Linked DNA regions of Homo sapiens. The protein of the gene in region 3 interacts with the protein of the main gene of each other region in a pairwise test. Each region holds a gene or a part of one and is shown on either strand. Other genes may lie near its edges.

Region 1 (9,094 bases), about 130 Mb from region 3:
AAGTTTTACGGACAATAAAAACTCATTAAAAATTTAATATTCCAACTCTATTAATAACTTTTCAATATAAAACATTGTAAACTATTTCTCCATCTTCTCATCACACTTAATCCAGTAGGTTTCAATTGGGAGTGTACAAAAGAATACTCAATGGAGTGTTCTCCCTAGAGAACACTTTTGGTTAATGGAGTGAAGGTCCTTTTCACACCTCCTACAGAGGGATCTAGATTTGCAAGGAGCTAAGCAGATTAGAATTCACGGCAAGTGTGTCATGGAAACAGCATTTTTAGACATCAGCCAATTTATGGGGAAAAGGAAGAGAGAGCAATGCGTTTAAATAGCACATTGTTGATATGCAAATAGGATCATGTAGTTCAGGCCTAAAACGATTTAGTAATTTCACGTCCCCTCTAAGGCAAAATCTCAACTTTGCCAGGGTGTTAAAAACTCCATAATCCAGGTCCCATGTATCTTTCAGGCCTCAACTTCCATCACTCTTCTGTGTGATCCAGATGTCCTAAATGATATGGAGTCTCAAGAATGATTCTATGTCATTTCATTTTCTAAGTCTTTGCCCATGCTTTCCCCTCCTTAGGGAAAAGCACCCCTTTAACATTTTTTTTATTTAACTGCCAATTGGTCATCCTGTAAGGGTTTATTCACATACCACTCCTTCTGTGGAAGCCTTATTGACTTCCCTACCTGCTGTGACAATGCATGTTTTCCAAAGACGATCACATTGGTATCTCCCGACTTGCATCTTCTTACAACATAGCTTTGACTTTCCTCCTATCCAAATGTGGGGTCTATGCTCCTTTACCTTGAATCTGGGCAATGGTGAAAGTGTTGCCTTGTGACTTTTGAGGGTAGCTCATAAAAGGAAGCACAGCTTCTGCCTGATTCTCTTGTGACACCAGCCCTTGGAACTCAGCCAGCATCCTGTGAGGAAGCCCAGGCTCCATAGAAAGGCCATGTGTAGATGTTTTGGCCCATAGACCTAGCTGTGGTCCCATCTCACAGGCAGCATCAACCTCCAGACATAGGAATGAATGAGCCTTCATATAATTTTTCCAAGAAGACCTAGTTTGTTGTTGTTATTTTAACTGGAGAATGGTATTAGGAACCCAGATGTGTGTGGTAGGTGTGCTCATTGCTACTGGGGTGGGTCATGTTTAAAGAAATGTTCACTCTGGCCAGGCACAGTGGCTCATGCCTGTAATCCCAGCACTTGGGGAGGCCGACGTGGGTGGATCACGACGTCAGGAGTTCGAGACCAGCCTGGCCAACATGGTGAAACCCCATCTCTACTAAAAATACAAAAATCAGCCAGGTGTGCTGGTGCACGTCTGTGATCCCAGCTACTCAGGAGGCTGAGGCAGGAGAATCGCTTGAACTCAGGAGGCAGAGGCTGCAGTGAGCCGAGATCACGCCATTGCACTCCAACTTGCTTGACGTAGTGAGACTGTCCCAAGAAAAAAAAAGAAAAGAAATATTCACTCTGCGTGAGATGAAGTGAGGCATGCATTGGTTCTTCATGTGCTCCCACTCTATATCCAAATTTAACTATAATTGTTCTGGCTTGTAGTTGTGGCCATTTTCTTGTTTCACTAATCAAGGGATCTTTCTGTTTTAAAATTCTTTTTATTCTGGTCAGTGGGTTTTCTTGTAGAATTCTCTCTTCCCAAGCTTTACTTATATTTACCTTGGGACTTTGCAAGAAATGTAGCTTTTTAACTATAGTGTCTATAAGCATATATCAAGAAAGCTCAAATTTACTGAGAAATATAAAGATCTGCATCTCATATGCTTTGTTTTACATCTCATGTAAAACATCTTCGTTTAACATATTTGTTTTACATCTCATGTAAGATCTGCGTCTCATATGCTTTGTTTTACTATAAAACCTACCTGCCTTATCCTTGGGAGTAAGAAAGCATTTTTATAGTGTGTAGTTATGCTCTTTCCAATTGTTTGACAACTGGGGAAATAAATTGAAGTGTTTCTAGCATATTTAACTTAACTCTAAGCAAAGCCTGATCATTTTGGGCCTGTGACTCCTATTGACTGTGTATCTTCTGGTTCCAATGTCAGAGCTAAGTGGTCTGTTTAAATCTTTACTGGGGGCTTTTAACTGCCTGTTTATGCAATATCTATGTAATGTTTGTCCAATTTTATGCACTTGAACAATTTTATCTTGATTTTTGGATAAGAAAAAGGGTAAAGTCAGTATCCAGCCTTAAGGGTAAATACAATACTAATGAGTGTATTAGTCCTTTCCCTTCTCACTCCCATGTAAATTGAAGTACATAGTCAATTCTGGGAATGTAAAGTCTCCAAGGAAGTTAACTGAGCTAAGTGTTGGGGCCAAACAGCCTTTCTGACTGCTCATCAAGGAATCCCCATCAGTCTTTGGAAGGTGACCTGTTTCCTAAAGATAGATACTCAAGGTAAAATTCGTTCTATTTATCGTGAGAGACTTGCCTCAGGAATGGACTCAGCTTTAATGGGTCCTTTCCTTATGTGAATTGGTGTCTCCTGGAAAGCCCTGGAACTACAAATGTTCTACTGGGTAAATGTGTGTTTAAAAGGAAAGATATATATTTTTAAAAGTCTGCCCAGGATATTGACCCCAGCCTTGTCATTTTTAGAATGGATGCTTTAAAAGCCAGCACAATCTATCCCATGCTCCCTTTTCACCCTGCCTTGATGGCTAGGAGTGTCCCAGAGATGAGTCATGGCTATTTTTGTGTGTGTTGAGCCTCAGCTCAACAGAAACTAGCAGGTTCTCTGAGTATAGCTAAGGAACTCTGATGAAGGCCCTCAGCCTCTTGGACAGAAGCAGCATAGGCTGTACCTGCTGAAAGTGTCCCCAGACCCTCTATATTCTTCCTTCCTAACTCAACCCCTATCTTTTTTTTTTCTCCCTTGCATGGAGCACACCCTATTTCTATCTGTCTTTTTATGTATTTACATCCCATAATAGATTCGTCACCAAATCTCTATCTAGGATAATAAGACCCGGAAAAAAGGATAAGTAGATATAGTCACTCTTAATACAGATTCCAGAGCCTTTGGGGTGCTGGGAAGCATGGTGCACAGAATTTGGGCCCTTGGACACCAGCAGAAACAGAATGTCACTTGCCTGCAGTTGCTCTGGTTGCTGCCAATTAATAAAAGGGCAGCGTAAAATCTTCCTGGGAAGATTCCACTATGTGCCACTATTAGAGAGCCATGGACTGCTCTGTGTGGCCTCCCCTGAGATTCAGAGGTCAGCTCCCACCCAAAGAGTGGGAGCTTGGACCATGCTGTCGCTAAGTGCTACATCCTGGGGATGGAGAGGCCTTCCTAATATCTCTTGAAAATACTCCCCAGGGGATCTTGGATTCGCCCTATAGCATCGTCTACGGTTCTTTGAATTGCGGAGACACAGGAGAAGATAGGACACACCTTGCATTTGTCCTGGATCTATTTCCTGGTAAAGAAATATTATAAACCACTAGCTCATTTTACTCAATCTTCTTTTTTTGTTTTTCATTTTTGGCCTCCAGTAGCCTGTGGGACAACATATCCCATCAGTAACAATGGCTGGCAATAGAAGGGATTCTTCCCAGGACTGGAGTAGGTGGAGAGCAAATTTGTCTCCTCAAGAACATGTATTGAAATCTCTGAAGCAGAGGTGTATACAGTTTTCAGAACTCTCCAGGTGATTTTGATGTACACACCTTTTCAACTCTTCATTACTTTGTCATTTTAAGCTCCACACTGGCATTTCTTACATTACTCTAATAAGTAAAATTGAATAATAAATATTTTACAAAGCTCTTCATTAACTTGCATTCCAAATTGAAGGGGAAAAGTGATTCTTTTATCCATCCCCTCCCCCTTGCTGATTTGTTTGCAGAATACAGGTGCTCAGTATTTTATTTTATAAAGAAATAACAATTTCTTTATTTGAAAAAGTATTGCCTAGACAAAATATGTATAATGAAGCTGCCAGAGTGTGATGTGGCCACAGCTGTACACAATATACATTTGTGAGCTCTTAAATCGTGGGTTCTGGAATAAGATAGTGTCATTCGCGGAAAATTGAAGTAGTAATTGTGCTCACTGATTGTATGAAAAGTGAAAACAGTGCTGTTACACAGAAAGATGAATTCTATTGGTCTCTGCTTAGAAGCTGCTATGCTAAATTAAACCTGATACTAGGCCTAAGGGGATTGCATTATTTGAGGAAAAAAGAAAATACAGGTAAACCCTGACAATTCTCATCCTCTTTCTGTTTTTCCTTTATTGCCATTTGTTCTGGGAACAAGGGTATACTATTTCTCAGAGGTTCTTTCCTGGCACGAGGGTCTAGGCCAGGCCATAAGCTCATCTCAGCTTCGTTCAGTTCCTGGCCATTCATGGATCCCTCTGTCTCACCTGGTCTGGTAACTGGCTTCTAAGGGAATCCCCAGTGAGGTTTGAGCTACCCAGTCCTGAGAGCCTGGGCCAGTAATTTTCCATTTCCAGGCCTCAGTTGTTTTAATTCAATGTCAATAAATTTTGGTTAAGAAATGAAGAGTTCAAGAAATAAACCAGATTTTTAAAAATAAAAGAGCTCTTCTAGAGCTGTCAGTCAATGGTTCAAAGACAATTGTGTCCTTTCTGAGGTCTTTAGCACAAAGCCGCTAGAGTAACACTTTTCATTTCAAGAGAGAATCCAGTGACATTGTCCCTGACTTCACACTTCCTGAAAACCACTTGGCAACTCAACACCAAGAGCTTCCGGTTCTTAGCAACCTGTTTCACTTCTTGAAGCTCTTTACTGTTGGAACTCTGCGTGTCTAGGGATCCAGACTTCCGGGTTAAAGAATCGTAAGATGATTACAGTTGGAAGTTGGACCAAAGCTAGGGTAAGCAGCCATATGCCTGGTCTTTTCCATGCTCAAGGCAGCCTCCCTTCAGGTAACCGTGTCTTCACTTGGATTACCAAATTTGAAGTCAGATTCCCCTCTGGTTTCTAAAGAATTTGAATTGGGCATCACAGAGCTACGGATGCTCTCTTGCTCCAGCTCAGCAGTAATGGAGGCAGCAGGAGCCTGCAGCACAGAACAAACTCATTACCCCAGCAGCCACCTTAGCCTGGCTTGGGACCAGGAACTGAATATGGGCTCTAACAGTTCTATGACGCTATGAATCTGAAATGTTATTACTGTGCTTTGCATGGCATATGAAATTACATTCTAGCTCACCAACTGGTCTAAGATTGCCCTGGGCAAAGAGATGTTACTTCTCACTCAATTCCCTGTTAGGAGCACAATAGTACTAAAATAAATAAACAAATGAGCTCGGTTTCAGAAGGCCTAGATCTGAATCTTGGATGAGCCACTTAGGGGTTGCATAAACTTCAGTTTCCTGATCTGATCTGCTTTGGCCAGCACACAGGTCAAGCGGTTTGTGCTAGGCACATGGTAAGTGATGGTCACAGCATATCAGGGGGTGTGGAAGCAGCAGGCTCTGCCTTTCCCTGTCCCTCATTTCTCCTTGACTTCCTAGGGTGTCGTACTTACCATAGCACATGATGTGGAGAATGCTAGAAGAGCAGTTGGGTGAAGCAGGGCCACCAAATAGTCCTTGCCTCCTGGAGACCTCTGGAAATCCAGATGAGTGTGGTCTGAGGTTGGGCCTCCCACTGTGCTTGCTCCTCTCAGGCCTACCCAGCGCTGCCTCTGAAGCCTAACTCAGGGCCCTGAAACTCCCCCTTGGGGCTTCCCTTCTCCCCAGCCCTCACTCTTGGTGCCCTGCCTGGCTACCATGGTAACAGGTTCCAGGGTAACAGAGGAGGGAGCTGGGTCCTGTTTACTCCCAGTCCTGCCGATGAGGATTCTGACCGTAGACACTGAATTGTCCCGTACCTATCCGTGCTCTTTCTGTGTTCTCACCAGGGCTGAGCTCGAACTGCCACCTCTGCCAGCAGGACCATGTGTACCAGCTTGACCACTTGTGAGTGGAAGAAAGTCTTCTATGAGAAGATGGAGGTGGCAAAGCCAGCGGACAGCTGGGAGCTCATCATAGACCCCAACCTCAAGCCCAGTGAGCTGGCCCCTGGCTGGAAGCAGTACCTGGAGCAGCACGCCTCAGGCAGGTGAGAGGTTCAGTGGGGAGGGACCTTGCAGACAGCCCCTGGGTCACAGCTGTGGGGTACTTTCCAAGGAGAGACAGAGCCCAGTCGCGGGCTTATTCTGGTGTCAGCTCAGATGGGGAAAAAGACAAAGACAGCCGGCTGGGTCAGAGAGTTCTTGCTTTTAATCCTAGCAATACCACTAACTCCCTGGGTGACCCTGAGAAAGTTATGTTCCATCTTTGGGTCTTAGTTGTCCACATTAAATGAAGAGCTGTAATATCATCTATGTCCCTGCAATCTCTGACATTTAGAGTGAGTTGGAACTGAAGGAAGGAGGCCATGAGGTCCATTGGGGAAAGTTTTAATCTAGGAGTTGGGGGAATGCAGGGGGTACAGCTATGCTCTGTTCCTAGATATGTTTAGTGAATTAATCCAATTTGATCTGAATACATAAACATTTATTGACCACCTGCTGTGTGCTACGAACTGGCTCTATATAGCTAAGTAGCCTTGTAAACTTGGCAAGTCTGTTTCCCTTTCTGGCTCTCAGTTTTTATATTTACAAAATGAGGGGGTTGGTCTTAGATAATAGATCCAATCCACTCTAGCTCTATTATCTATGCACCTGTGATAAAAAGATTTAGCTTTGAGCAAAACTTTCTTTAGGAACTTAGAGCCCAGGGTCCCACTCTTTATAGGAGCTGCACATCTACCACAGGGCAAAGAGTCCTTGAGGCCAAGGGGACGAGGCCGTCTAAAGTCCACATGCCTTTCCTCCTTTTAGATCATGATTGGGGACTGGGACTACAGAAATTCCTCCCCAGACTACCTCAAGTCCATCTGTAGTGTCTGTGCAGGCCTTTTTCCTGTGTCCTTGGATTCAAGAGAGGCCAGTAAGTGGCTGTGCTCTGGAGATGTAGCCAGAACATGGACACAAAGGCTGGGTTGTTCACGTGTATGTGTGTGAAGCTTCTCATGGTGCAGAATGGTGCTGAGGGTGGGAACAGAGGAGGCAAGATGTGGGTAGGGAGCTTACGTTTGTACTCTTGTCCCAAGACCTGGAATTATTGGAGTAAACCTGCCTTGTGAAAAAAAGACAGAAAACCAGAGGTTGGCTGATTCATGTCAGTTCCATCAACTCAAGAAGCATCTATTGGGTACCTGTTATGTGCTGAGCACTGGCTCTGCCTCTAACTAGCTGTGTGTACATGGATGCCTCTCTTACTATCTGGGCTTCTGTCTCTTCTCAGTGAAATAAAGGGCTGACTAGATGCTTCTTAAGCTCGCCTGCCCCCAGATCTGATATTTTTGAATTTAAGATGTGAGGCCTAACTTGATGTAGGTGAAGCAATTCTGGGTTGGTTTGATGTAAAAAGGTGTAGAAGGAGACTGAAAACATAAAGCATTTGAACTGCCTGGTGGAAGAGGTGCAGATGCCTGGAAACTTGAGTGCCCAGGATCCAGAGTTTCGGGGCTGAGCTCAGCAAGCTCATGTCTCCTCTTGCTTCAGAGGTCAGCTCCTCTTACTCCTGGCTGGTGACTTGTGGCTCCCAGCTGGCCTCAGGAAGAGCTGAAGAACTGCTGCCCATGAGCTTATTTGTGCACAGGCTCACTCTGTCTCTAAACAGGCAGATGCCCTGCAGCTCTCACCCAGCACTGGGGGCGGGGAACCTCTCCTGGTTCAGTACCAGCTAGGTTCCTCTGACCTGCCAACCCCACCTTGGGCCATTCTGGGTACTGTTCTATGCTCATGTGATCAGGCTTTCAGGGGTCAGAGCCAGGCTTGGCCTCACCTCTATCCCATAGCCTGGGTTGAGTGGTGCTTGGCATATGGGAGGTGTTGAATGGTGTCTGTTGGATTGAATTGAGTTCCTAATCAGAAGTCCTTCAAGGCCATCATACAATGGATCCAGAAAGGGCCAGTGATGAGGACAGGGACAGCCCAGTGGACATCTGACTGCCTGTGAAGCCTCTATAACAGAGGCCTGGAAGAGGCTCATCTCAGGGAAGGAAAGAACTGCCCTGGAGGTCAGGAGTGCTGCATCACTGAAAGTGTGCAGGCAGTGGTGGGGGCGGAGTGAGTGGGGCTTGCCTAGATGAGCCCCAGGCTACCACCCACAACACTTCCTGAGACTGGGACTCTAGAAAGCCCAGGTTACGCCAAGTGGCCTCTGTGCATGTAAGAGAGAGAGAGAAAATATATGTGTGTGTGTGTGTGTGTGTGTGTGTGTGTGTGTGTGTGTGTGTGTGTGTGTGGAGTGGCAATGGGAATGAATACCCTCTTTTCCAGTCCCCACTGCAGGGCTAGAGTGGGATCTAGAGAAGACTTGTCAAGAGACTGGGGAGTGTTCTTTGTGAAGATGTAGTAACTAAACTTGGTAGTTCCTCCTAAAAGCCAGTTGATCCTACCCATCTACCGGTCTGTCCATCCCATCATTCTCAGTGGTTTACTGAGGACCTACAGTGTGCCAGGGTCTGTGCTTGGCACAGTTAGAGGCGTCTCTTCTCCCCAAAGTAAGCAAGATGCATGAGTTAGATGGTGTATGTCATCCTTCTTATTAGAGTCGCAGGAGGTCACAGAGGAAGGACCCTTACTGGACGCCAACACACTACATTTCACAAATGAGAAATGAAGCCCAGAGAGGGGGGGATGACCCTGCACAGCGCCCAGGTGCAACCTTGAGTGCATCGGGCTGGGGGGCAGCTGAGACCGCAGGAGGCACGCTCTAGAGCACTGCTGGATGCCAGATGGCTCCGGCACTGGCTCCTGAGGATGCTGCTCGGGTCCCAGGGGTGCTCACCAGGAGGAGGCGAGAGCAGGCCGGCCTTGGAGTGCTAATGAATCCACAGGGCAGTAAACACTGCCTCCATCTCCAAGCACGGGCACACAGGCTTTTTTTTCCCTCTCAGAGCTTCTCAGGGCAGGCTTCTCTGGGATGCCCACCTTCTCCACCCCTCCTTCTCCTCCCGGCAGGTTCCACTGCTCCT
Region 2 (4,949 bases), on a different chromosome or scaffold from region 3:
GGCCGGGCGCAGTGGCTCTCGCCTGTAATCCTACCACTTTGGGAGGCTGGGCTGAGACGATTGCTTGAACTCAGGAGTTCAAGACCAGCCTGGGCAACACACTGAGACCTCGTTGGGACCAGGGAGTCAAGCCCCCCACACATAACCAGCGCTTGGCACCGGGAACTGTCCTGGATGTGAGTGTCACAGGGCTGAGGCCACCAGGGAGTCGCTCTCACCCAAAACTCAAATTTCCTCCTAAGTTGATCTTTGACTCAGCATCGAGCCTGGTCCTGCTGGCCAACAGCCTGGAGCGTGATCCTGTGGCTAAGCTCTGCAACCTGTTCCCAGTTATCAGGGACTGTCACCCACTCTATTCGTTAATGATGATGGATTAGCAGCCTCTGGTCCCCATCCCGAGCCAGTGCAGAGCACCTGTCCCAGAGCAGACACTCTCATCTCCTGCTCCGGTTCCCTAGGGCTCTGTCCCTGGGGGCCATCAGCGCTGGCTGCGCACCTCCCTGGCCCCACGGCCCTGCTGGGCTTCTCCGGCCTCCCCTCAGGTGTCTCCTCCCTACTCCTGTGCTGGCCTGGGCTGTGGAACGAGAGGTATGCGGTGAAGCAAAACAGGCCCATGCCGAGCCTGGCACGAGGGGGCGAAGCTGGCTAGGTGGGGCTGAGTCCTGACCTTCCAGCCCACAGGCGAGAGCTGGGGCTCCCTGGGCTCTGACCTCTCCCGGGACCCCCGCCTACTCCATGCCAGATGCAGGATTCCTTCCCCTACTGGGCTCCCCCTCCCCCAGAGGAGGAGGTAGGAGGAAGGGGAGGCCACAGGAAGACAAAGGGAGGGGAGGGTGGGGAGGAGGAAGCCAAGGGGGCCTGCTGTGGAAAACTCCACAGAAGTAGCTGAGTGGGTCAGAGGAGAATGCAGGCCTGAAGCCCGGCCTGGCCCCGAAGTTCTGCCCGCCCATGCTCAGGTCACTGCCTTCTCCCAGGACTCTGGGACCATGGAAAAGCCCCATGTCTCCGAGCTGCCCGGCACTCTCAAGGACATGGCTTCAGGAAAGGGAGGAAGGAAGGGTGTGGGCTCTGGGCTGCGGGGTGGACAAAGAACCCCGTGCCAACCTGGAGGGCAGGGGCAGGAGAGGACCAGGAGTGACGTCTCCGCCCCCTGTGCCCAGCGTTCAGAACCCACCCCTCCCCTCAACGCAGACACGGGGGTTCCCAAGCCACAGCCCCGTTTTATTTACACTCATCCCAAAGCACATGATGGGGCTGAAGGACGAATCTCAGGGGAGCAGAAATTAGCTGAAGGCCACAGAGGATAGAGACGGGGGGCAGGGGGAGAACAGGGAAAGGACAGCGAGGATGGACAGGCCCTCCTGGAGCGTTCTCCGTGGGCTCCCGCGTCTCCTTCAGGATTTGGACTTGGACACAGCAAGTCCGATGAGTCCGGCCAGTCCCGCCACACCCAGGGCCATGCCTCCCACGATGGCCATGCCCACGAGTCCATCTGGGGAAGGAAAGGGACAGTGTCAGGAGCCCGGCCCCTGCGGAAACCCTGACCGTCCCCTTCCGCCAGCCCTGCCCCTCAACAGAGGCACACCCCTACCTGGAGTCGCAGGGCAAGGGGCTCTAAGAACTGGAAGGGGTGGGGCTGAGGGGCTGCCTGGAGGGGTTCATTTACAGAGAGACCAAAGTGCCCAGGCGTGGGGAAGAGCGGGGCTGAACAAAGGGGCCGAGGCTGTCACCTTTCTTCATGGCCTTGTCAATGAGCCGCTCCAGTTCCTTGGCCTGGTTGTTCTGGGGCTCTGTCTGCAGCAACCCGCGGACGTACTTTAAGGCCTTCTCGTATTCCTGCGCTCGGGGAAACGCGCACGCGTCATACACACCGCAGTGTTTTTTTGTTTGTTTGTTTTTTAATAAGAGACGGGGTCTTGCTCTGTTGCCCACGCTGGACGGCAGCGTCGCAATCACAGCCCACTGCAACCTCAAACTCCCAGGCTCAAGCAGTCCTCCCGCCTCAGCCTCCTGAGTAGCCGGGATTACAGGCGTGAGCCACTGGGCCGGCTACACCTCAGTATCCACCACTCCCCCTGCCCACGTGAAGGGCCTTCCCTTCTTCAGCCCTGGGGGCTCCTCCCTCGACCTCCACCCACTCCCTCCCTCCAGCCCCACCCCACGGAGTAGAGTCCACAAACAACCCCAACTCTGCGGGAGATAACAGCGCAAGGCTTGGGCCTGCACCCAGTCTCTTGACGTCACCTTCCTCCCCACCCCCTCGCCACTCTGATCTTCCCTCGGAGTCCTCATCTGACACCGCTCTGCACCTCTGCACCCCTTCAGCCTTCCCGCTGTCCAGGGCTCCACCCTGGAGGACACAGTAAGAAGGTCCTGCAGCCCCAGAGGAGGGTGAAGGGAACGGGGTCCCCACCTCACCTTGAGCCGGTAGTTCCCCACGGCCAGGTAGAAGACGTAATCCCGCTGTTCCTCCTTGCTCCCTTTGGGCAGCAGCTCTGGGGAGGGGCAGAGAAGAGGGTGAGAAATGCTTCTTTCCTAATACTTTCCTAATACTGTGTCCCAGAGGCCCCTTCCACTCTCTGAATGCCTCTGTGATCCTGGGAGGGTCACAGTCCTAAGCCTCCCTTTCAGCTCCAGTCACTCCCAGCACCCTAGCCAGAGCTCTGGGACAGGGTGAACCCCAGCTGTGCCAACACCCCAGTGACAGAACATGCCTTTTATCAGTATTACAGTCAACTGGTCCATCCAACTGAAATGAGGAAATCGGGGCCCTGGAGAAGCCAAAGGCAGCGTGACTCAGTTTTGGCATCTGCTGTGGTATTTTTTTTCAGACGGAGTTTCACTCGTCGCCCAGGCTGCGGTGCAATGGCGTGATCTCGGCTCACTGCAACCTTCGCCTCCTGGGTTCAAGCGATTCTCCTGCCTCGGTTTCCCGAGCAGCTGGAATTACAGGTGCCCGCCACCACGCCTGGCTAATTTTTGTATTTTCAGTAGAGATGGAGTTTCACCATGTTGGCCAGGCTGGTCTCAAACTCCTGACCTCAAGTGATCTGCCTGCCCTGGCCTCCCAAAGTGCTGCCGTTGTGGTTTTAACTAAACTGCCTGCTGTACAATTATTGTTTAAAAAAAAAAAAGTTAGGACTCCCTCCCCCTTTAAAAAAATCAGCTCAAAACTCACCTTCAATCAGCCTTCCCCGAAGACCCCACCTGACTTTGTCTTCCTTCCTTTTTTTTTTTTTTTTTTTTTTTTTTAAAGAGACAGGGTGGGCCGTGAGCCGTAGCTCATGACTATAATCCCAGCACTTTGGGAAGCTGAGCCGGGCGGATCACCTGAGGTCGGGAGTTTGAGACCAGCCTGACCAACATGGAGAAACCCCGTCTCTACTAAAAATACAAAATTAGCCGGGCGTGTTGGCACATGCCTGTAATCCCAGCTGTTCGGGAGGCTGGGGCAGCAGAATTGCTTGAATGCGGTAGGCAGAGGTTGCGGTGAGCCAAGATTGCACCATTGCACACTCAGTCTCGGGAAAAAAAAAACAAAAAACGGAGACAGGGTCTCGCTCTGTCACTCCAGTCTGGAGCACAGTAGCATGTCCATGGCTCACTGCAGCCTCAAACTCCTGGGGTCAGTGATCCTCCTGCCTCAGCCTCCCAAGTAGCTGGGACTATAAGCACACACCACCATGCCTGGCTAATTTAAACATCTTTGTTACACAGACAGGCCAGGTGGTCTCAAATTCCTGACTTCAAGCCATCCTCTGGCCTTGGCCTCCCAAAGTGCTGAGATTACAGGCATGAGCCACAGTGCCTGGCCCCACCTGACTTTCTTAATTCAGAGACTTCCCAGAGGATAACTGTACTGTATGCACTAGAATTTGTTGCTAAATAATTCTGCAGGTGTTTATAAATCTTCCTGTCTGTACTGTTTTCTCAACTAGACTGGCAACACTTAGAGAGGCTGTTTCTTCTACACCTACACCCTGCTGTAGAATAAACCTGAAAATCTGAATTGCCGAAGTAGACAAACATAGGGTAAAATTATTTGTATCTTTTAAGAAAGAGTCTTATTTTTATAGTTTTTTTTTTTTTTTTTTTGAGACGGAGTCTCACTGTGTTGCCCAGGCTGGAGTGCAATGGCGTGATCTTGGCTCACTGCAACCTCTGTCTCCCGAGTTCAAGTGATTCTCCTGCCTCAGCCTACTGCGTAGCTGGGATTAAAGGTGTGCGCCACCAGGCCCAGCTAATTTTTGTATTTTTAGTAGAGACAGGGTTTCACCATGTTGATTAGGCTGGTCTCGAACCCCTGACCTCGTGATCCGCCTGCCCTGGCCTCCCAAGGTGCTGGGATTACAGGTGTGAGCCACTGTGCCTGGCCATTTTTATAGATTTTCAATAGGCATCCTTTGCTAACACAGTCAGCATTCTGTATTCATAGATTCAACGAACCATGGATCAAAAATACTCAGAAAAAAAAAAAAGATAGTTGCATCTGTATTGAACATGAACAGACCTTTTTTTCTTGCCATTATTCCCTAAACAATACAGTATACTATTTACACAGCATTTACATTGTATTTGGTATTATAAGTAATCTACAGATGATTTAAAGTATATGGGAGAAGGTGCACAGGTTACATGTAAATACCATGCGATTTTATATACGGGACTTGGGTGGCTATTGGTATCTGTGGGGGTGGGGTTCCTAGAACCAATCCCCCATGGCTACAGAGGGATGGCTGTACACTGACTGTGTGCTTATAAATGATTATTTGAACACAAGGAGCTACAGAGAAACTAAGTGGTTAAGTATTGTGGCCTCTGACAAATGATGACCCACCTAAAACCAATAGGAAATAGGGTTCCCATCCAAAAAGCACTATCTGGCTGGACGAGGTGGCTCACACCTGTAATCCCAACACTGTGGGAGGCCGAGGTGGGCAGATCACCTG
Region 3 (7,282 bases):
TGATGTCATCTTTAGCTGGTATTCAACCCAGAGCATAAGAGTTCCTGTATCCTGTACGGTTTCTGATCTGAGGTACTTATCCCAGGTCTGGGGCTTCCTCATTGATCCTGAGGAAACCATCTCTCATCACCTAGGCCCACCAACACTGAACCCCTCTCCCACTATGCTCAGAATTCTTGGTGAATATAGGAAATTGGAACAAATAAAATGTCTAATATCTACTTTCTTTTCTACTTCATTGATTTTTGTTTTTGTCTGTGTTTCTTCCCTCTAATTTGCTCTGGCTTTGATACTATTTATTTTCTCATTTCTTGAGCTAGAAGCTTAATTTATTGATTTTTCTTTCCTTTTTTCTTTTTATATAAGAGATGGGGTCTTGCCATGTTGCCCAGGCTGGTCTCAAACTCCTGGGCTCAAGCAGTCCTCCCGCCTTGGCCTCCCAAGGTGTTGAAACTACAGGTGTGAGCTACTCCACCTAGCCTCTTCCCTTCTAATATACGTATTGAAGCCTATGAATTTCCCTCTGAGGCACTGCTTTAGCTGCAGCCCAGCTTGATGTCATATTTTCATATCTTCTTCTTGTTTTTAAGCTCTAAGTTCCATTCTTCTCTGGTAAACTGAAATATTCAAACACAGTCCTGAATTCAGATTTAAACTGTAAAGTTTATCTCACTTTATTCCCAGAATGACTTGGCTGTAGATTTTCTGTAAAAAAAAAATTGGAAAGAGTGAAGCTCCTGGGGAGTTTAGGGCTCCTAAATCCTACAGAAAGAGTCAAAAAGAATATTTTGATGACTCTTGCCTTTTTTGATATACAATTTCCAGTGAATTATTATTATATTATTTTGAGATGGATTTTTGCGCTTATTGCCCAGGCTGGAGTGCAATGGCACAATCTCGGCTCACTGTAACCTCCGCCTCCCGGGTTCAAGCGATTCTCATGCCTCAGGCTCCCAGGTAGCTGGGATTACAGGTGTGTCCCACCACGCCCAGATAATTTTTGCATTTTTAGTAGAGATAAGATTTTGCCATGTTGGCCAGGTTGGTCTTGAACTCCTGGCCTCAAGCAATCGACCCACCTCGGCCTTCTCAAGTGCTGGGATTACAGGCATGAGCCACTGCACCTGGCCTTTGATATACAATTTCAACTGGATAAAAATTGCAAACATGATTCCTTAAACCTAATAAATCATCCATGCAAAGACTTCCAAAGCCTGTTAAACAAGCCTTATTTTAAAAAACACATTTTAAAGTTAACAGAAAATCTGCCAACATTGCACCTAATTAGGAGTTCAGAAATAGAAACCACCTGCATGTTGCTGATCTAGACTTATTAAATTTATTTCATGTCATTGTGGTCACTTTTACAGCTGTTTAGACTTATTTTCAATCACATTACTCTTCACAGAATTCACAGAATTCATTAACTAACTAGTATGTTACATCCAAGGGTTCTTAGTAGCACATTGAAATAGAAAAGAGGCCCACGAGTTGTTGCTTGTGTGTGGAACCTGAGTCTGATTACTTAGACAGATGTCTAGAACATTATTGCTTTATTAGGCCTATTTTTAAAAATAATAAATTATTCCTAGGAAACCCACCCTGCCAGGTGCTCATTCTGCGACTGCTGTGGGTTCACTCAGAACATACCTGACTGGTGGGTGCTGAATGAACCTCCCACCCATGTACCCTGCTGCTCCGGACGCTCTGAGGGCTAGAGCAATGCCCCTCCATGCGTGTAAACATTTTCTACAGCTTGCCACTTTCCTCCCTGGTCTTGCAGCCAATGGGCTGCAGTCATACATGGGTCTCTATGTAAAACTTAAATTAGACCTAAACAACAGGGTTCAGCGAATGAGGACTAATGCTCCTATAAAAGCCACTGCCCATGCAAGGGAATACACCTGATGCAACAAAAATATCTTGAGTCTCCAACTATAAGGAATGTCTCAAAGAAAATGTCCTTGATTTAATTATGGTCCAAGGTGGCTGCTTTGCACAAGCTTCTCAGTGACATGAACTTGAAGACTTCATGGTAGATTTCATGGCTGGGGTTTCTTATTTTGTTCCATATGAGTTTCTATTTTGTGAAAAATATCTTGGAGGTTTTCGCGTGGTCCCCAAAGCTCTGGGGAACCGTGGATACCAGGGATAAGGGACGGGCTTCCTCAGGGTCACTGGCGCTCCGACCGCATTTGGGGCAGGATCCCTGAGAGTGGTGGCTGCGTCAGACTTGGGGGATGGGAGCAGATGCTGTGTGCAGAATGCAGGCTGCAGTCGGGGCCTCAGTCCAGCTTCTTGTTGTTGTCTGTGTTGTGCACAGAAGCTAAAAAGTCGATTATGAGCTTGGCTGTCTTCCTGGGTCTTTCCATCACTACTGAGTGCCCACAGTTTTCCAGAAGCTCCACCTGGCAGTTGGCAATTGACTTGGCCAACATGTCTGCCCCAGACACATCCAGCACCTGCTGGGCAAGAAAGGGAGCTGGATGATACACAAAGATTCAGACACCCACGTGTGCACTCTGTGGACAGAACTTCCACCAAGGCCTGGCAGGGGTCAGTGGGGCAGGAGGATGTGAATTTTAGGACCAAGTCCCTTTGGTGTTGGGGCTTGTGGCTGTCTGAATGGAAGTAACCATGATGCCTCCTGTTTTATTCTGCAACTCTGTGCCAGGAGTTGGGCTGATGTCAGCAATACTGAGGTAGAAAACAAACGTTCCTTGCCCTTGAGGAGGTTATGGTATGGTGGGGAAGTCAGAGAGCACAGGGGATGAGCAGGGTCGAGGGAAGACCTCGTTCCTGAGTCCCGGGAGAGCAGAAAGGGGACAGGGGAGGAGCATTCACGGATGTGGGAATGGCACAGGGTGGGAGATCATGGCGAGTGCAGGGGCCACCAAGGAGCACGGCGGCTGAGACACCAAGCACATGGGCAGTGGGGGTGGCATGGTGGGGAGAAGGGGCAGAGAGGAGGGCGCTGCTCCTACAGCCACACGGACCATGGGGAACCACAGGCTGTGTTAAGGTGAGTGACTTGATCAGGCTGGCCCTGTGGCTGGTTAGGGCAGCCCAAGCTGTAGGAAGGATGCAAGAGGGGAAGGCTAATTATCACAAGCTGGGGGTATCTCTTTATTTGTTGAAAAGGAGTTTCACTCTTTCGCCCAGGCTGGAATGAAGTGGCGTGATCTCAACTCACTGCAACCTCCGCCTCCCAGGTTCAAGTGATCTTCTGCCTCAGCCTCCCCAGTAGCTGGGATTATAGGTGCCCGCCACCATGCCCAGCTAATTTTTGTATTTCTAGTAGAGATGGGGTTTCACCACGTTGGCCAGGCTGGTCTCGAACTCCTGACCTCAGGTGATCCACCTGCCTCAGCCTCCCAAAGTGCTAGGATTACAGGCCTGAGCCACCGCACCCAGCTGGAGGTCTCTTTGAAGGTCCTCTGGGGATCCCCAGAGCTGTGTGTTTCTTGGCTCTAACCTCTGCAGATATGGGGAATGCTTTTCCAACATGAAAGCCAGAACTTTTCCAGGGCTGATCCTTTTCAAACAACTCATTTCCTCTCCTTTTCCTCTGGGTTCCCAGCTACTATGCCAATCCACCTCCATCTTTTTCCCCAACATCCTCCCTCAGAAGTGGATCCGCATTCACTCCCCTTCTCTTAGCTGCCTTTACCTTCAATTCATCCTAGACAAGAGGGCCCCTCCTCCCCATCCTTAACGGCAAAAGCAAAAGCCCCAACAAACTCAAGCACCTTCTGTGTCTTTGCTCTATTCTCACCAACTCAAATTATTAAAACCAAGATTTTCTGCCCACTGGGGAGTTAAGGTAAGACGATGCCTCAGTCAAGGAAAAGAGTCCTGCAGGGCATCCCTGGACCAGGAAAAGGAACAGCTAATGGGGAGCTTAACAGCTAATTCCAGCCAAGGAAATGGAAACCTCTGCCTTGTCACTCACTCACAGCTAAGGCTGCCACGGCAACCCACTGAGCAGGAATAACACCCAGCTACTGTGGAAACACTCAGAAGAAACGCAGATGCAGTCAATAGGTGAAAACAGCATGAAAAAGTGGAAACTCCCAACTGAGTGTCTTTTTTTGTTTTTTTGAGACAGGGTCTCGCTCTGTTGCACAGGCTGGAGTGCAGTGGCACGATCATGGCTCACTGCAGCCTTGACCTCCCGGGCTCAAGTGATCCTCCCACCTCAGTGCCCCCCAGGTAGCTGGGATGACAGGTACGCACCATCATGCCCAGGCAAAACTGAGTGTCTATCCTGGAGAGATATCAGAAACCACAACTCACAGGCAAAAATACCCATATGAGCTGCTGGCTTTGGCACTGTTTGCTGGTTAGCGTTACAAATCCATCATTCTCCATGGCCACCCAGAGGTATGTGCAACTACTGAACGACCCCCTGATGAGATATGCACATCTGTGGGAACCATTTCAGCGATTTCCTAGATAGAATATTCATATAAATGGTCAAAAACTTTTCCTGGGCTGGGTGTGGTGGCTCACACCTATAATATCAGCACTCTGGGAGGCCGAGGTGGGAAGATCTCTTGAACCCAGGAGTTCGAGACCAGCCTGGCCAACATAGTAAGACCTCATCTCTACAAAAAATAAAAAATTGCTCTCCCTCTCCCTCTCCCTCTCCCTCTCCCCACGGTCTCCCTCTCCCTCTCTTTCCAGGGTCTCCCTCTGATGCCGAGCCGAAGCTGGACTGTACTGCTGCCATCTCGGCTCACTGCAACCTCCCTGCCTGATTCTCCTGCCTCAGCCTGCCGAGTGCCTGCGATTGCAGGTGCACACTGCCACGCCTGACTGGTTTTCGTATTTTTTTGGTGGAGACGGGTTTCACTGTGTTGGCCAGGCTGGTCTCCAGCTCCTAACCGCGAGTGATCCGCCAGCCTCGGCCTCCGGAGGTGCCGGGATTGCAGACGGTGTCTGGTTCACTCAGTGCTCAATGGTGCCCAGGCTGGAGTGCAGTGGTGTGATCTCGGCTCGCTACAACCTCCACCTCCCAGCCGCCTGCCTTGGCCTCCCAAAGTGCCCAGAGTGCAGCCTCTGCCCGGCCGCCACCCCATCTAGGAAGCGAGGAGCGTCTCTGCCTGGCCGCCCATCGTCTGGGATGTGAGGAGCCCCTCTGCCTGGCTGCCCAGTCTGGAAAGTGAGGAGCGTCTCTGCCCGGCCGCCATCCCATCTAGGAAGTGAGGAGCGCCTCTTCCCGGCCGCCATCCCATCTAGGAAGTGAGGAGCGTCTCTGCCCGGCCGCCCATTGTCTGAGATGTGGAGAGCGCCTTTGCCCCGCCGGCCCGTCTGGGATGTGAGGAGCGCCTCTGCCCGGCCGCGACCCCGTCTGGGAGGTGAGAAGCGTCTCTGCCCAGCCGCCCCATCTGAGAAGGGAGGAGACCCTCCGCCCGGCAACCGCCCTGTCTGAGAAGTGAGGAGCCCCTCCGCCCGGCAGCCACCCCGTCTGGGAAGTGAGGAGCCTCTCCGCCTGGCAGCCGACCCGTCCGGGAGGGAGGTGGGGGGTCAGCCCCTGCCAGGCCAGCCGCCCCGTCCGGGAGGGAGGTGGGGGGGTCAGCCCCCCGCCCGGCCAGCCGCCCCATCCGGTAGGTGAGGGGCGCCTCTGCCCAGCCGCCCCTACTGGGAAGTGAGGAGCCCCTCTGCCCGGCCAGCCGCTCCATCCGGGAGGAAGGTGGGGGGTCAGCCCCCGCCAGGCCAGCCGCCCCGTCCGGGAGGGAGGTGGGGGGGGTCAGCCCCCCGCCCGGCCAGCCGCCCCGTCTGGGAGGTGAGGGGCGCCTCTGCCCAGCCGCCCCTACTGGGAAGTGAGGAGCCCCTCTGCCCAGCCAGCCGCCCCGTCCGGGAGGGAGGTGGGGGGGTCAGCCCCCCGCCCGGCCAGCCGCCCCGTCCGGGAGGTGAGGGGCGCCTCTGCCCGGCCGCCCCTACTGGGAAGTGAGGAGCCTCTCTGCCCGGCCAGCCGCCCCGTCCGGGAGGGAGGTGGGGATGTCAGCCCCCCGCCCGGCCAGCCGCCCCGTCCGGGAGGGAGGTGGGGGGGTCAGCCCCCCGCCCGGCCAGCCGCCTCGTCCGGGAGGTGAGGGGCGCCTCTGCCCGGCCGCCCCTACTGGGAAGTGAGGAGCCCCTCTGCCCGGCCAGCCACCCCGTCCGGGAGGGAGGTGGGGGGGTCAGCCCCCTACCCGGCCAGCCGCCCTGTCCGGGTGGTGAGGGGCGCCTCTGCCTGGCCGCCCCTACTGGGAAGTGAGGAGCCCCTCTGCCCAGCCACCACCCCGTCTGGGAGGTGTGCCCAACAGCTCATTGAGAATAGGCCATGATGACAATGGTGGTTTTGTGGAATAGAAAGGGGGGAAAGGTGGGGAAAAGATTGAGAAATCGGATGGTTGCCGTGTCTGTGTAGAAAGAGGTAGACATGGGAGACTTTTCATTTTGTTCTGTACTAAGAAAGATTCTTCTGCCTTGGGATCCTGTTGATCTGTGACCTTACCCCGCAACCCTGTGCTCTCTGAAACATGTGCTGTGTCCACTCAGGGTTAAATGGATTAAGGGCAGTGCAAGATGTGCTTTGTTAAACAGATGCCTGAAGGCAGCATGCTCGTTAAGAGTCATCACCACTCCCTAATCTCAAGTACCCAGGGACACAAACACTGCGGAAGGCCTCAGGGTCCTCTGCCTAGGAAAACCAGAGACCTTTGTTCACTTGTTTATCTGGTGACCTTCCCTCCACTATTGTCCTATGACCCTGCCAAATCCCCCTCTGTGAGAAACACCCAAGAATGATCAATAAAAAAAATAAAAAAATAAAAAAAATAAAAAATTACCCGGGTGTGGTGGCACATGCCTGTAGTCCCAGCTGCCTGGGAGGCTGAGGTGGGAGCATTGCTTGAGCTCAGGAGGTTGAGGCTGCAGTGAGCTATGATTGAGCCACTGCATTCTAGCCTGGGTGACAGAGCAAGAACCAGTCTCAGAACAAACAAACAAACAACCCCCCTGCCCAACAAAAAACAAAAATCAAAACCTTTTCCTGCATTGCTTCACACCAGGGCTAAAACTATGGTGAGGCAAATGAGGCATTTGCCTAAGGCACAAAATTTAAGTGCCAAAAAACTCATAAATTAAGAGAAAATATTTTAGTGCAGTATGTTAAAAAAAACATTAATGGAAAAAGGCACATGATGAACAAAATATCAAAATCATAAATACAGACAGGATCTGACCCTGCACCTGCATGACACATCTCTCTCATCTCACCCTTGTCTCGGGCCTGTTA

What was found. The genes of interacting proteins can lie anywhere in the genome.
Region 1: the proteins of ABHD6 (region 3) and RTP2 interact in binary tests that used the Homo sapiens proteins (3 or more experiments, as listed by UniProt).
Region 2: the proteins of ABHD6 (region 3) and FIS1 interact in binary tests that used the Homo sapiens proteins (3 or more experiments, as listed by UniProt).

What each region holds. Positions count from the first base shown.
Region 1 is NC_000003.12:187,698,998-187,708,091, reverse strand, and holds the start of RTP2 (receptor-transporting protein 2), read left to right. Parts: upstream 1-5,534; 5' UTR 5,535-5,963; coding exon 5,964-6,127; intron 6,128-9,080; coding exon 9,081-9,094. UniProt on the Homo sapiens protein: Specifically promotes functional cell surface expression of olfactory receptors, but not of other GPCRs.
Region 2 is NC_000007.14:101,238,412-101,243,360, forward strand, and holds the end of FIS1 (mitochondrial fission 1 protein), read right to left. Parts: intron 2,496-4,949; coding exon 2,419-2,495; intron 1,837-2,418; coding exon 1,731-1,836; intron 1,493-1,730; coding exon 1,395-1,492; 3' UTR 1,061-1,394; downstream 1-1,060. UniProt on the Homo sapiens protein: Involved in the fragmentation of the mitochondrial network and its perinuclear clustering. Plays a minor role in the recruitment and association of the fission mediator dynamin-related protein 1 (DNM1L) to the mitochondrial surface and mitochondrial fission.
Region 3 is NC_000003.12:58,288,769-58,296,050, reverse strand, and holds the end of ABHD6 (monoacylglycerol lipase ABHD6), read right to left. Parts: intron 2,466-7,282; coding exon of another isoform or gene 2,463-2,465; coding exon 2,286-2,462; 3' UTR 1,317-2,285; downstream 1-1,316. UniProt on the Homo sapiens protein: Lipase that preferentially hydrolysis medium-chain saturated monoacylglycerols including 2-arachidonoylglycerol. Through 2-arachidonoylglycerol degradation may regulate endocannabinoid signaling pathways.